Linked DNA regions of Homo sapiens: region 2 is linked to region 1. Evidence: fine-mapped expression QTL. Tissue or cell type: whole blood. Region 1 holds a variant in brackets; the other region holds the start of a gene. All regions are shown on one strand. Distances are from middle to middle.

What was found. PIP is the estimated chance that this variant, and not a neighbour inherited with it, causes the effect.
Region 2: it holds the start of STK10, and the variant in region 1 is fine-mapped to the expression of STK10 in whole blood (TOPMed, PIP 0.99).

The regions. Positions count from the first base shown.
Region 1 is chr5:172,063,663-172,071,840 of GRCh38, forward strand. STK10 (serine/threonine kinase 10) reads right to left here. Exons shown (of 19, transcript NM_005990.4): 13 at 1,058-1,150. Among named protein-coding and RNA genes, the nearest start is that of FBXW11, 61 kb to the left of the region's middle. RefSeq lists an enhancer at 3,107-3,156. The variant A/C (reference allele first, on the strand shown) is at 3,512.
Region 2 is chr5:172,184,531-172,192,708 of GRCh38, forward strand. It overlaps STK10 (serine/threonine kinase 10), which reads right to left and starts at 3,694. Exons shown (of 19, transcript NM_005990.4): 1 at 3,357-3,694. The coding sequence starts at 3,512. RefSeq lists enhancers at 427-476, 1,517-1,566, 1,837-1,886, 2,547-2,626, 3,679-4,454 and silencers at 3,087-3,166, 3,297-3,346, 3,647-4,006.

The DNA.
Region 1 (8,178 bases):
GGGACAGACAGGTCATAGGGTGTCCCGGAGAGAACACAAGCTTGAGGCCTCGACCCCCTCCCTGAATGTGAACTCAGCAATGTTACCTCTCTCAGCCTTTGTTTCCTCTTCTGCGAATGGGAAAATGAACAGCTCCTACCATAGTAAGCTATGAATGCTGAAGCAGGTAATATACAAAGCATTTCTAAATATGGACTCAAAAATTCTTTGCTTTGGGGGCTGAGGAAGCAGAACACACAAAGACCCCCTCGTGGGGGAAAATAGGAGCATTCCGGCAAAGGATGAAAAGAAGGCTGGGGAGGCCGGCCAGGGCACAGCAAAGAGGCGGCGCTTATCTTAGGGACAATGTGGGAGCCACTGAAGGGTTTTAAGGCACAGGGCTGTGGGGGGAAGGGTGCTATTATCAGACTTGGAATTCACATTGATCACACGCAGGCAGGAGAGAAGAAACTGCAGGGGAAAAACAGCTACAGGAAGCCTCGCTGGGAGGCCACTGGACAGTGGCTGGGGGATCATGGAGATGGTGACGAGTTCATAGATCCAGAGACAGGAGATAAGAAATATACATACCATGCTTCTGGAGGTGACGAAGGACTGGAGGGAAAGGAGGCGTCAGGAATGATGGGCCAGAAAGGAAGGAAAATGGCACCCCCTCAGAGCATAACAGGACCAGGTCTGGGACATCACAAGTTTGATGTCCTTCAGACTTAAAAGATGCCAAGTGGGCAGGGGAATATACTGGGTTGGTCAAGGAGATGTGACTTACAAATAAATAACCCTAAAACAAGGTAGGAGGTGCTAAGGGTTTGGGAGGTGGTCAATGTAAAGTGTTGGGGTATCCAGAGATGGAAGAGCTTACTTCCAGATGGAGGCAGGGCAATCGAGGAAGGCTGCATGGAGGAGGGGATAATGGGGCCATGAAGGATGAGGCCAGATTTAGGTATTCAGAACGGGGTATTTGAGGGGCAGGGATTGGGCAAAGGCAGAGAGGGGGCCTGGTCACCATTCCAGGTCTCGCACCAGCCCCTGCGCTCCCCAGCTGAGGCCAGGGACTCACAAGAAGCTGCTTTTTCTGCGTGTGCTCCTCCATCTTCTGCTTCATGCTTTCCTTCCGCTGCTGTCGGGGGAGCTTCTCCACCTCGTTCTTCACCTGCAGCAGAGACAGCAGAGAGTAGCTGGGTCAGGGTCCTCTCCATGCTTCCTACAGTATAATCTTCAACGCAGAACCCCCGGGCCAGAGAAACCAAAGAAGAGGCTCAGCTTTGCAGCGGCCAGCACCCTACGCGGCTCCCCACCAAGCCCCTCTGAGCAGGTGCTCCACACTGGCCTACTCCTGCCTGCCGCTGGTTTCAGCTTCCAACTCCCCCAGAGTGGGCAGGTGCTGTTTTCAGCAGCTTGGTATCCACCCCCCTCTTCTGGTAACAGCACCTCAGTTTCCTGCAGGGAAGTGTTTCTCAACCTTTTTAAAAAATTACAGTCCCTACAGAAGTTCTTTTAGACATTTTTCCCTAATCCCTCTCCCCCCATGAAATACTAGTCCAACAGACAATATCGTCAATCTGACAAACCATTGTCATATTTCAGTTATTTTGCTTCCTTTAGGGTAACACTAGCCGGGCTGAAAATGCACTTTTTTTTTTTTTTTTTTTTGAGATGGAATCAAGCAATTCTCCTGCCTAAGCCTTCCAAGTAGCTGGCATTACAAGTGTGCACCACCACACCTGGCTAATTTTTGTATTTTTAGTAGAGATGGGGTTTCACCATGTTGGCCAGGCTGGTCTCAAACTCCTGACCTCAAGTGATCTGCCTGCCTGGGCCTCCCAAAGTGCAGGGATTACAGGCATGTGCCACCGCGCCTGGCCGAGAATGCATACTTTAGTATCCCCCTTGTCAGCCCCTGAGGTCCAGGTGAACTGACATCCCTACCCCCGCTGGCCCTGGGCTGAGCATCTGATCCAGGCTGGCCAAGCAGCATATTCCATGCCCTTAGCCTCAGGAACTGATTCAGAGATAAGCACGTGACCCTCACTGGTCCAGTGTGAGCTTTGGGACGTTTGCTGGAACTACTGAAGAAAAGCTACCTGCTGTCCTCTGGGGTTGTTAAACTGGAGGGATGAAGGCCAAGGTGAGTCACCTTGTCAGCCCCTGGAGGGGACTGCCTGAGATGAACTCAGCACAGGGAAGCAATGTCCAGAGATGAGAAGAAGAATCCCTGGCAACACTCCTGCCCTCCTGGTCAGACGCCAGCAAGTGTTCTTTCCTTCTTAAGCCAGCTGGGATTGGGTTTCTGTCTTTTATAACAGGAGGGAGAAGAGATCCATGACACTTCTCTCTAAGGACCTTAGAGTTCCTCAGACAGTTCCTTCCCAAGAAACCCACACCTTCACAGGTGCCTAATAACCCAAAACCTGCATTGACAGAGGGCTCTTAAGAGCATCTGATGGGGGGAAAGGCCCGCCTGTGATCAAAAAGAGAGCATTCCAGGGAGTTCTGGCATGGTGAGGTAAGCCAAGACAGGCTGTGTCTCCTGATAATTACAGTGAAAACTCTGCATCAAATATGAAAGCAGCTACTTGAGGACTCTGAAAACCAAACAAAAGCAGGTGGCACGAAGGGGAGTCAAAACTTGCAGACAAGACTGGTACAGGGGATAAGTTTCCTATTTTTTTTTTCACCCTTTTGCTCTCCTGGCTTTGCACCAATTCCAGACCTGCCCAGTAGTGCAGTAGAAAAGCTGGCTAAAACTCTGTAAGAAACCTTGTGTTTCTGGCCAGAGAACCAGGAAAAGAGGCCTGTGCAGTCCAGTGAGTATGGGATGAATCCCAAAGAGAAGGGCACAGAAGGCCAGGCGGAGTGGCTCACGCCTGTAATCCCAGCACTTTGGGAGGCCGAGAAAGGTGGATCACTTGAGGTCAGGAGTTCAAGACCAGCCTTGGGCAACATGGTGAAACCCTGTCTCTACTAAAAATACAAAAATCAGCCGGGTGTGGTGGCACATGCCAGTTATCCCAGCTCCTTGGGAAGGAGGCATGAGAATCACTTGAACTCAGGCGGCGTAGGTTGCAGTGAGCCGAGATCATACCATTGAACTTCCAGCCTGAGGGACAGAGCGAGACTCCGTCTCAAAAACAAAGAGAAGAGCGCAGGAAAAGGGAAATTCCTAACTGTGTGTGTGAACACAGAGATTCACCCCTGAGCTGAGTATGAGTGAGACAGGTGCCAAGCAGTATAGCAAAAAACAAAAAAAGCAAAGACCCAACTAAACTAACACTGAAACCACTACCCACAGAAGATCAGACAGAACCTGTGGTCTGCAGGGTTTCCTGTTAAACAAAAAACATCTACATTCTTCAAAAGATTATAATACGGACCCACAGTCTACAGAACATAACACTGAAATGTCAGGGATAGCCAGGCACGGTGGCTCACACCTGTAATCCCAGCACTTTGGGAGGCTGGGTGGATCACCTGAGCTCAGGAGTTCGAGACCAACCTGGGCAACATGGCAAAA[A/C]CCCGTCTCTACAGAAAATATTAATACAAAAAACTAGCTGGGTGTGGTGCCAGTGCACCTGTAGTCTCAGCTACTCAGGAGGCTGAAGTGGGAGGATCACTTTAGCCCAGGAGGTTGAGGCTGCAGTGAGCTGTGACTGCACCACTGCACTCCATCCTGGGCAACAGAGCAAGACCCTGTCTCTAAATAAATAAATAGAATAAATAAATAAATAAATAAATAAATAAATAAATAAATAGAATAAAATGCCAAGGAAACAATAAAAAATTACTCTACATACAAAGAATCAGGAAATAGAACCAATTTTCAAAGAAAAAGGCAATCAATAGATGTCAGCTCCGGGATGACACAGATGTTGGGACTGGCAGAAAGAAACTTTAAAGCAGCTATTATAACTGTACTCCATGAGGTAAAGCCCTTTAATATTTCAAGTATGGAAAGATGAAAGTTCACAGCCCAGAAAAACTATTTTTTAAAAAATTAGAAAATTTAAAACTAAACAATACAATGTCTGAAATTAAAATAAAACAATAGTGGAATGGTGATCACAGAGGAGGGTCATTCATTTGAAGACTGATTAATAAAGATTATATAATATGAATGATAGAGAGAAAAAAAGATGAAAAAGAGGAAGGTTTCAGGAACTTATGGGAAAATTATCAAAAGCTCAATGAAACCCAAACAGGTTAAATTAAAAGAAAACCACCCTCATACATATCATAATAAAACTTGAAAACCAAACACTAAAAAAATTCAGGAGAGTAGTTAAGAGAAATGTGACATATTAACACAGGAAAATAATGACTCCAGTGACCATGGATTCCCCAACAGACACTAGGGAGGCCAAAAGCCACCGGAGTATCATCCTTAAAGTGCTGAAAGAAGGGCCGGGCGCGGTGGCTCACGCCTGTAATCCCAGCACTTGGGGAGGCTAAGGCGGGTGGATCACGAGGTCAGGAATTCAAGACAAGCCTGGCCAAGATGGTGAAACCCTGTCTCTACTAAAAATACAAAAAAATTAGCTGGGTATGGTGACAGGCGCCTGTAATCCCAGCTACTCAGGAGGCTGAAGCAGAGAACTGCTTGAACCCGGGAGGCACAGGTTGCAGTGAGCCGAGATCACACCACTGCACTCCAGTCTGGGCGACAGAGCGAGACTCTGTCTCAAAAAAAAAAAGTGCTGAGATAGGTATGTCTAGTGAAACTATCCTTCAGAAATGAAAGTAAAATAAAGACATTTTCAGATGAAGGAAAGTAGGAAACTTTGTGGTCAGGAAGAAAGGCTACATTGGAAGTTCTTCAGGTTGAAAAGAAGTGAGCTGAGAAGAAAACTTGTATCTTCAGTAAAAAAGAAAGAGTGACAGAAATGGTAAATATCTGGATAAACATAATCAACACTTTTTCCCTTAAGATCTTTAAAATCTCAATGACCATTTAAAGCAAAAGTTGTCACATTGTCTGGTATGGTTTTTAATATATGTAGATATAATACATGTGATAGGCCAGGTGTGGTGGCTCACACCTGTAATGCCAGCACTTTGGGAGGCTGAGGTGGGCGGATTGCTTGAGGCCAGGCAAGACCAGCCTGGCCAACATGGTGAAACCCTGTCTCTAGGCATGAGAACTGCTTGAACCCAGGAGGCAGAGGTTGCAGTGAGCCAAGATCATACCATTGCACTTCAGCCTGGGCGACAGAGCAAGACTCTGCCTCAAAAAAAAAAAACAAAACCAAAAACGTGACAATTATAACAAAATTGAGAAAGTATCAAGAAATTTACATGGTTGTAAAGGTACATTTTACTTAAAGAATTACAATATCAACTCTAAATAGATGCTGAGATAGGTATGTATATTATAATGCCCCAGAGCAACCATTAAACACAAACACACACACACACATAAAATATAAACTAATTCATGAATTAAAAAATAATACTAAAAATATTCAAATACTTCAAAAGGAGGTAGAAAAACAGGGAAGAGAGGAACAAAAACCAAAGGAGACAAAACAGGTAATAATTTAATTAAATATAAATGCCATAAACACCTCTACTAAAAAACAAAGATTTTCAGATGGGATTAAAAAAAATGAAAGCACAACTATATGCTGTCAACAAGAAACCCATGTTAAATATAAAGATTTAGACAGGTTAAATTGAAAGGATGGGAAAAGATACTGTATGCAAACACTTATCAAAAGAAAGTAGGATTGGCTATTTATTAGACAAGGTAGACTTCAGAACAAGGAATATTATCAGGAATAATGATGGGCATTATATAATTATAAAAGGAAGACTCAGTTCACTAAGAAAATATGACTATTTTAGTCTTAGCTAAAGTCTAGGAGGCTGAGGAGGATCACTTGAGCCCAGGAGTTTGAGGGCACTCTGGGCAACATAGTTAGACTTCCATTGCAAAGAAAATAAACAAATAAATAAATAAAAGAAAATGTGACTATTTAAAATAACAAAATAATTTCAAAAATGTGAAACAAAAGCTGACAGAACTGAATGAGAAATAGATAAATCCACAATTACAGTTGGAGATGTTAACATTCCTTTCTCAGTAGCCAGTAGAACAAGTGGTCAGAAAATCAGTAAGAATAGAGAAGACCTGAACAATACTATCAATTAAGTTGACCTACTTGACATTTATAGAATACTCCACTCAACAACAGCAGAATACACATCCTTTTCAAGTGCACACGGAACACTCAGCAACACAGACCACATCCCGGACCATAAAACAAGCCATAATACATTTTTAAAAACTGAAATCTTAAAAAATATATGGGCCGGGCGTGGTGGCTCATGCCTGTAATCCCAGCACTTTGGGAGGCTGAGGCATGTGGATCACCTGAGGTCAAGAGTTCAAGACCAGCCTGGCCAACATGGTGAAACCCTGTCTCTACTAAAAATACAAAAATTAGCTGGGTGTGGTGGCATGTGCCTGTAATCCCAGCTACTTGGGGGGCTGAGGCAGGAGAATCACTTGAACCCGGGAGGCAGAGGTTGCAGTGAGCCGAGATCATGCCATTGCACTCCAGCCTGGGCGACAAGAGCAAAATTCCACCTCAAAAAAATATATATCTATATATCTATATATCTATATATATATGTTATTTGATTTGATCATAATGAAATCAAACTAAAAAACAATAAGAGAAAGATATGAGAGCCCCAAAACATTTTAAAATTAAACAACAAGCTTTTAAATAACCTGGGTCAAAGAGGAAGTTGCAAAGGAAATTAAAAAGTAATTGGTATTGAATAAAAATGAAAATACAACATATAAAGATTTGTGGAATGAAGCTAAAACAGTGCTCCATTTATAGCATTAAGTGAAATTTATAGCATTAAGTGCTTAAAGAATAGTCTCAAATCAATGTTCTAAATGAGCTTCTACATTAAGAAACCATAAAAAGAAGAGCAATTTAAACCCAAGACTAATATAACAGCAGAAATCAATAACATTGAAAAGAGAAAAATCAATGAAACCAAAAGCTGGTTCTTTGATAAGGTCAATAAAATTAATAATTAGACTGACAGGGAAGGAGGAGGAGAGGAGGAGGAGAAGGAGGATGAGAAGATGACAATACAAAATACCAATATGAGGGATGAAAGAAAGAACATCACTATAGATGCTACAGGCATTAAAAGGATAGTCAGGAAATATTTAATGCCAATAAATTTGAGTATTAAAATGAAATCTACAAATTCCTTGAAAGACAGAAGCTACTAAAGTTTACTTAAGAAGAAACAGGCCAGGGGCGGTGGTGTATCCCAGCACTTTGGGAGGCTGAGGCGGGCAGATCACCTGAAATCAGAAGTTTAAGACCAGCCTGGCTAACATGGTGAGAGCCCATGTCTACTAAAAATACAAAAACATTAGCCGGGTGTGGTGGCACGCACCTGTAATCCCAGCTACTCAGGAGGCTGAGCAGGAGAATCGCTTGAACCTGGGAGGCAGAGGTTGCAGTGAGCTGAGATTGCACCACTGCTCTCCAGCCTGGGCGACAGAGTGAGACGCTCTCTATCTCAAAAAAAAAAAAAAAAAAAAAAAAAAAAAGAAATAGGTATTTCATTGGAAGGCCATGTAACAATGAAAAGTTTAAAAAAAAAAAAAAGAAGAAGAAATAGATAACTAAAACTGAGGCAGGATAGGTAGCAAAAAAAAAAAAAAAAAAAAAATGACCAGGTTCTCTGGACACAGCAACTATGGTGACCATACAGTCAACACCATAAGCCTCAGCATTCTCATTGTAATTGAGCTCATTCAAGCACAGCTATCTTCAGTAGGGGATTTTCCCTGTAGGGAGCAAGCACATTTTGATTTTACCTGTCCTCCGACTGACTCTTTGTTCATTGTAATAGTAAAAAACACATCCCTGGGTAGAGATGTAAGATGCTAATGAGACAGTGACAAATGAACAAGCATGTACAGCTACTACAGCTGTGCACCCAGAGGACCACCCAGAACATGCTTCCTGGCAACGCCTCTTCCCACCTACTTAGGAACCATCATGTAAGGCTCCCTTTAAAAGAGTCTCCCTAGTGCCAGTCTTTGCTGTCTCGTCCTTACAAGCAGCCCACTCTGAATTCTCTCTCTCTCAGGGTGTACTGTCTATTCTATACCTAACTTTCAAAATATTATTTTCCTTTTGCAAT
Region 2 (8,178 bases), 120 kb after region 1:
TCACACAGCTCTCTTGGTCTGGCTCACCCTTAATTAAGAGAAAATGGTGGATTCGGAGGTAGGCGGAGAGGGCTGTGGTGGAGACAGCTCACAACTTTGAGAATTAAAGTCACTTTTTGTTTTTATTGTTGTTGTTTTTGAGACAGAGTCTCCCTCTGTCCCCCAGACTCGAGTGCAGCGGCATGATCTCAGCCCACAGCAACCTCCGCCTCACGGGTTCAAGCAATTCTCCTGCCTCAGCCTCCCGAGTAGCTGGGATTATAGGGCACGCGCCACCACACCCGGCTAATTTTTTTATTTTTTTATTTTTAGTAGAGGTGGGGTTTCACCATGTTGCCCCAGCTGGTCTCAAACTCCTAACCTCAAGTGATCCACCCGCCTCGGCCTCCTGAAGTGCTAGGATTACAGGCGTGAGCCACAGCACCTGGCCCTGGAGTCACTTTTTTAAAAACTGACTTTCCACGTGCTTTGGAGAACCAAGAGGAGACAGTATCGATTGTGGATCGGATGAGTTCCTTTGTATGAAACTTTCAGAGTAGCAGGGGAGTCTTAAGGGACTAAAGCAGGAGGAAACACAACTGAAAATGACAAGGGGAAATCTTACCAGCATGAAAGCAAAGTTCTGCGTTTAAGTTTAAAGGAAGATGAACCCTGTGAAGCCAGGACACACTGCGGGGAAGGGGACAAGAATGCAATTGAAAGCCCCTAACGGAGAAAAAAAAAAGCCCATATGTTTGTTTTGTTTTGTTTTGTTTTTGAGACAGAGTCTCGCTCTGTCGCCAGGCTGGAGTGCAGTGGCGCTATCTCAGCTCACTGCACCCTCCACCTCCCTGGTTCAAACGTTTCTCTTGCCTCAGCCTCCTGAGACGCTGGGATTACGGGCATGCATCACCATGCCCGGCTAATTTCTGTATTTTTAGTAGAGACAGGGTTTCACCATGTTGGCCAGTATGGTCTGAATTTCCTGACCTCATGATCTGCCTGCTTCAGCCTCCCAAAGTGCTAGGATTACAGGCGTGAGCCACCACGCCCGGCCCAAAAAACCCATATGTTTAGCATACGCTAAAAACACCAACTGAACCTTCTGGAGAAAGTGGGTCCTGTGGTGAGCTGACCACAGGGGTCCAGCTGCCCTCACAGTAGTCAGAGCACAGCTGCAGGAGCAGGCTCTGTCTAAGGCAGTCAAGGACACTGGCAGTGTCCAGAGACAGTTGCAAGGCTGAGGATCGTTCTCTGGTGCCACCAGGAAGAAGATGCAGCTCTGAGGAGAGTAAAGAAAAGACGTGCTGAGGACAGGGTGAGCTGGCTGCCCTCAAATATGGGCAAGGCCCTCAGGCAAAGGAGGACAGCAAGTCGGGGCAGTCCAAAAGCACTGCCTCTCGGATCACAAGACCTCTCCCTACCCCATAACAGGAAGTGTGGGCTCAGAGGGGAGGTGGCAAGGAAACAAAACAGGCACCAGGCCAGGCACAGTGGCTCACGCCTGTAATCCCAACACTTTGGGAGGCCGAGGTGGGTGGATCAACTGAGGTCAGGAGTTCGAGACCAGCTTAGACAACATGGTGAAACCCCGTCTCTACTAAAAAAACAAAAATTAGCCAGGCATGGTGGTGTGTGCCTGCAATCCCAGCTACTTGGGAGGCTGAGGTAGGAGAATTGCTTGAACCCAGGAAGTGGAGGTTGCAGTGAGGGCCGAGATCAAACCACCGCACTCCAGCTTGGGCAATAGAGTGAGACTCCGTCTCACAAAAAATAAAAATAAAAAAAGACACTGAGTGGGCCTGGTTGGTCTCAAAATTGCCACCGCTCCAGGTCAGGCAGGGTGGCTCACCGCTGTAATCCCAACACTTTGGGAGGCTGAAACGAGCTGATTTCATGAGCTCAGGAGTTCATGACAAGCCTGGGCTACGTGGCGAAACCCCAAGTCTACAAAAAATACAAAAATTAGCCGGGCTGTGGTGTGCACCTGTAGACCTAGCTACTCCGAAGGCTGAGGCAGGAGAATTGCTTGAGCCCAGGAGGCAGAGGTTGCAGTGAGCCGAGATCGGGCCACTGCACTCCAGACTGAGCAACAGAGGGAAACCCTGTCTCAAAAAAAAGAAAAGAAAAAAGAAAAAACGCCACCACTCCAAGCCTCTAGGGCAGTACTTCTCAAACCTATTTGCTTAGGAATCACCTGGGATCTTATTAAAACGTAGACTCTAATTCAGCAGGTCGGGGCTGGGCATGAGATTGTTCACTTCTGACAAGCTCCCAAATGATGCTATTATAACACCGGTCATCTAGGAACTACTTCGGTAACTAGGCGATAGACCACTTCCAAGTCAGAGGAGAAGGCCTGGAGAAGCCTTCTCTGTGGTCCAGCCTCATAGAACGGCAATCCTAGGGTCAGAGTGCCCTACAAGCTACAGGAGCCCCAAGGAGGAGGATAGTGGCTTAGAAGAGAGGTGCTCTCCTGGAGGTATACACCAATTTAACAAGTGGGCGTCTCCCAGTAAAAATTTTCTTAGGGGAAAGGGGGGAGTCAAGCTGTAGGTGTTGGCTCCCTAAAACAACTCACCACCTCAGAATTAGCTCCCAGGAGCAGAAACCAACGTCCTGCTGCCACACTTCTCTAGACTCAATCAGCTCTGCCCCACCCACTCCACAAAAGCTCTCTGCCGCGTCTTCCTCTAGGGGAGAGGTGACTGCAGGCTGGGAGACTCCCCAGCTGTGACTCAGACCGACGGAATCAAATCTGTTCCCCCAGGCTCAGCATTCACCAGATCCTGACCTCCCCCTCTGACCAGCCCCAACCCACCTTTCCAAGCCCCACCTCTCAGTCCATGGGCCACCCCTCGCCCACCCCACTTCCCTGTCTCTGGCTCATCTTCAGATGTGTCCCTAGCTCCCAACCCGTCCAAGCGCAGCCGAGTTTCTCGGTCCACATCGCCTCGATATTCCCACAGCATCTGTGGTCTCTCTTAAAAAAAAAAGTGTGCCCGTATCGCCGTTTTACGGAACGTCCCTGGAAGGTCCCTCGAGTGGCCCTCTCGGATGCTGAGGTCCTGTCAACGCCCCTTTGTCTCCCCGTGCGGCGCCGAGCGCAGTGCAGGACACACAGGAAGTGCTCCGAAACAGGGCTAGGGTGGGGGCGGCAACCGTGCCCGGAGGGGGCGCCCAGAGCGCAGGGACTCGGCCGGGCCGAGTGATGTTCCCCCCAAAAAACAAGAGTCATCGGGATGAGGGCCAGGGACCCCGAATTCAGCGCCGGGCAGCCCTCGGAGCCGGAGCCAGGCTGGCCGGGTCCGGCTCAGGCATCCCTTCCTTCCGGAGCCCCTCGACGCGCGTCCGGCCACCCACCTCAGCGCCCTCACCTTGTAAACCTTGCCGAAGGCGCCGTCGCCCAGCTCGCCCACGATCTCCCACACCTCGTTGGGGTCCAGGTCGCGGCGGACGTGCTCATATTCGCGGGACTTTCTCTTCTCGAAGGTAGACAGGCGCAGGATGCGGCGGAAATTGGCAAAAGCCATGGCCGGGGGCGCGGTGGCGCCGGCTCGGGCTCGGGCTCGGGCTCGGGCTGTGGCTTCGGCGGCCGCGAGGAGAAGGAGGAGGAGTTGGAGGACGCCGCGTCTCTCGGGGTTCTCCCCAGACCCGCCTTTCCCCGCAGCCCGACCTCGGTCAAGTGTGCCCTGGGCAGCGCCGCGCCGGGAGCACCCGGAACCGCGCAGGCGGCGGCGTGCCCGCCCCCGCCCCCGCCCTGTCAGGTCCCCAGGGCCGCCTCCCTTGTGCCGGCCTCGCAGCTCCTGCCCGGCCCAGCCCTGCCTGCGAGAGCCTCGGACCCGTTCCAGGGGACCGTCCCCGCGCCCGCCCACCGGCCCGGCTCCACCCGCCGCTCCCCGGCAGAGCCCCGGGACCCCCTAATTGGCTGCGGGCGCTCCCCGGCTCCGCCCGTCGCCGCAGGGCACTCTGGAAACTGTAGTCCCCCCACACCACGCTCCGCGAGCCGCGGGCTGGGCTTTGGGGAAGCTTCGGGGACCGCTCGGTGGGACCGCTCATGGACTCAGGAGCCCGCCCGCCGCGCCGCGTGGCTCCCAAAACTTTTATGGGAGCAAGCGGGACGGCGACTTGGCATTTCGCGAGAGCCCACGGATCGTTGTCAGCGCCCAGAAGGTGAACCTGCACTCGTTCATTTAATCCTCCCGCAGCTATTCCGCTAGGCTGCCCTCGCCCCCACTTTTCCGATGGGGACGCCGGCAGGCGAGGGCACTCGCCCCAGGCACACACGCTGGCTGCCCGTCTGCTGCGGGTTCCTCGGCGCGGTGCTGCCTCCTAGTGTGCGACGGGCAACGCCGGTGCAGCCGCGGCCAGTCCCTGCAGGGCCCGGCTTCCCGGCGCGGTCCTTTCCAGGGGCTCCCCGTCCACGATCCACAAACCTGCCAGGATTAGAGGGCTGGGAGAAAGAGCTCCTTTGGCACTGATTTCTCTTATGTTTCCTGATGGGTTTGCGGATGTATTTGCATATTAAATAAAAACTTTATTCTAATTTTTAATTTCCTAGTTTCAAAAAAGATGAGCGCACTACATACAGATCAAACTAAAGTCTTCTTTGAGCACCTTCATTCTCGATCCTGGCTACTTGAGTCACTTCACTGCTACTGTTGCCTGTTTGTCCTATAGACGGTTATAACATGCTTTTACCTGAATCTAAGGAGAGTGCTGGGGGTGGGGGGGGGGGGCGGGCAGTCTGCAAGGGTTATTATTTGGACCGTGTCATAAACAAGTTGAGTCTTCGCAAATGTCACAGTTCAATAGCTCCAACCCCAGAGAACGGCTGTGTTGAGGTGTTTTCGCCCCTTCCTCGGTGCTTTGTTCGAAAACATCCTTTGAACAGTGTGCAAACACCAAGCATGGTTTTCCACTGGGAAAGCCAGCTCAAGAAGCCTGCGATGCTGGTAGTGGTCGGCGCAGAGGGTGTCCTGGTTGCTAAGCCGTTCGGAATGTTTCCACAGCTGCAGGAGTGCCTGGAATTGTAGAGGGTCTTTAAAAGAAGGAAACGCCGCTCGTCGCTGACCGTTCTCATTGAGTCAGGCGCTGTCTGAACCTCCCAAAACATGCTGAAAGGCAGGTCTTTCATTTGTTTCAGACCATTTGGCCAACTGTACGAAGCGGGTGGGGAGACCAAGAGGGTTGCTTCCATACTAGGAGATGAAGGCTCTGACTCCACGAAAGCTGTAGGCCTGGAGGGCTCTGACCAGCTCTGAGAGCTCCAGAAAAGCAAGCAAGCGAGAGAAAGAGAGAGAGAAAGGAAAGAGAGAAAGAGAGAAAGAAAGAAAGAGAAAGGGAAAGGAAAGGAAGAAAGAGAGAAAGGAAAGAGAGAAAGAGAGAAAGAAAGAAAGAGAAAGGGAAAGGAAAGGAAGAAAGAGAGAAAGAAAAAGGAAAGGAAGAGAAGGAGAGAGAAAGAGGGAGGGAGGGAGGGAAGGAAGGAAGGGAGGGAGGGAGGAAGGAAGGGAAAGAAAAACGGAGAGGTTCATTCATTCAATAACACTAAGTCAAAGAAGCCAGACACAAAAGGCCCTGTGTTCTATAAATTTCCATTTATATGAAATGTCTGGAAAAGGCAAATCCATACAGACAGAAAGTAGATTAATGGTTGCCTGGAGCTGGGTGTGAAATGGGAATTAACTGTACATGAACAATAAACAGTCTAATTGGGGTGATGAAAATGTCCTAAAACTGCACAATGGTGACAATTTCATAATTTGGTAAATTTGCCAAAAATAATTGAATTTTAAACTTTCATTTTTGTAAATGGATGAATTTTATGTGTAAATTATACCTCAATAGCATTGTAAGAAATACATTGAGGTTCAATAGAATCAAAGCTACTTCTTTGAAATAACTAATAGACAAGACTAGTCAAAGAAAAAGAAAAAAAGGGTCGGGCACGGTGGCTCACACCTGTAATCCCAGCATTTTGGGAGGCCAAGCTGGGTGGATCACCTGAGGTTAGGAGTTCAAGACCAGCCTGGCCAACATGGCAAAACCCCAGCTCTACGAAAAATACAAAACTTAGCCGGGCGGGGTGGTGCACGCCTGTAACCCAAGCTACTTGGGAGGCTGAGGCAGAAGAATCACTTGAACCCAGAAGATGGAGGTTGCAGTGAGCCGAGATCGTACCATTGCACTCCATCTAGCCTGAGCAACAGAGCAAGACTCCGTCTCAAAAAAAAAAAGAAAAGAAAAAAAAAAAATTGGTGCAAGAAAGAAATATTCACTGGAAGAAATAAAAAATGAAAAGAGAACATCAGATTAGATACTGTAGAAATTTTGATAATCATAAAGTGATATTTTAGACAAATTTATGTGAATAAATGTTTTAATTTACATAAAATGGGTAATTATTGAGAAGAAAATATAAATGATAGGTAAAAGATAATTTCAATAAGAAATAAAAACCTAAATAAACTAGTAACCAATAAAGAAATCAAATCAAGAATCAGGCCGGGCACAGTGGCTCATGCCTGTAATCCCAGCACGTTGGGAGGCTGAGGCGGGTGAATCACCTGAGGTCAGGAGTTCGAGACCAGCCTGGGCAACATGGTGAAACTCTGTCTCTACTAAAAATACAAAAATTAGTCGGGTGTGGTGGTGCGTGCCTGTGGTCCCAACTACTCATGAGACTCAGGCACAAGAATCCCTTCAACCTAGGAGACGGAGGTTGCAGTGAGCCGAGATCACACCACTGCACTCGAGCCTGGGCAACACAGTGAGACTCTGTCTCTAAACAAAAACAAACAAACAAAAACCCAAAAAACAACAACCACAAAAATCAAGAATCAAAAGCTTGTTCTTGGTGAAAGACATCAGTCTGTGTGGTTTTACAAATAATTTCTTTCTTTATATAAATTATTTTAAAAGATAGAAAATGAAGGAAATCTGCCAATTTATTTTATAAGATGAGTTTTACTATTACTAGATAAGGACAGTAAAAGAAAATTGTAAGCCAGGCACAGTGGCTTACACCTGTAATTCCAGCACTTTGGGAGGCTGAGGTGGGAGGATCACTTGAGCCCAGGAGTTCCATACCAGCCAGAGCTATAAAGTGAGACCCTGTTTCTACAAAAAGTCAAAAAATTAGCCAGGCGTGGTGGTGCACACCAGTGGTCCCAGCTACTCAGGAGGTTGAGGCAGGAGGATTCCTTGAGCCCAGGAGGCCGAGGCTGCAGTGAACAGTGATCTCACCGCTGCACCAGCCTGGTCTCCAGTGAGACCCTGTCTTAAAAAGGAAGGGAAGGAGAGGAAAGAGAGAGAGAGAAAGAAAATTGTAGACTAATTTCATTTCATTTTTTTTTTTTTTTTTTTTTGACAGAGAGAGTCTTGCTGTGTCGCCAGGCTGGAGTGCAATGGTGTGATCTCACCTCACTGCAACCTCCACCTCCCAGATTCAAGCGATTCTCCCGCTTCAGCCTCCCAAGTAGCTGGGACTACAGGAACGTGCCACCACGCCCGGCTAATTTTTGTATTTTTAGTGGAGATGAGGTTTCACCATGTTGGCCAGGATGGTCTCAATCTCTTGACCTCGTGATCCGCCCGCCTCAGCCTCCCAAAGTACTGGGATTACATGTGTGAGCCATCACGCCCGGCCTAATTTCAGTTCTTAAAAAGACAGGGAAAATACAAATGCTAGCAAGATCAAACCAGAGGTGAATAAAAATATCGTAACCACAAAAGGTTTATCCAGGAATAAAAGAATGGTTCTACATCAGAAAATCTACTGTAATAGCACTGCATTGGCAGAGTAAAGGAGAAAAATCACATAGTCTTAATAGTCACAGAAAAAGCATTTTATAGTATTCTTAGGTTGGATTCCCTTAGAGACTGACCCTGAGGCAAGGATTTGAGTGTAAGTGGTTTATTTGGGAGTGAGTAGGGAGTAGAAAATTAAGACAGAGGAGGGGCTGGGCACCATGGCTCACACCTGTAATCCCAACACTTTGGAAGGCTGTGGTGGGAGGATAGCTTGAGGCCAGGAGTTCAAGACCAGCCTTGGCAATGTAGCAAGATCCTATCTCTACAAAAAATACAACGTGGTAGCACATGGGCATAGTCCCAGCTATGAGGAGGTGGAGGTGGGAGGATAGCTTGAGCCTGGGATTCAAGGCTGCAGTGAGGTATGACCATACCACTGCACTCCAG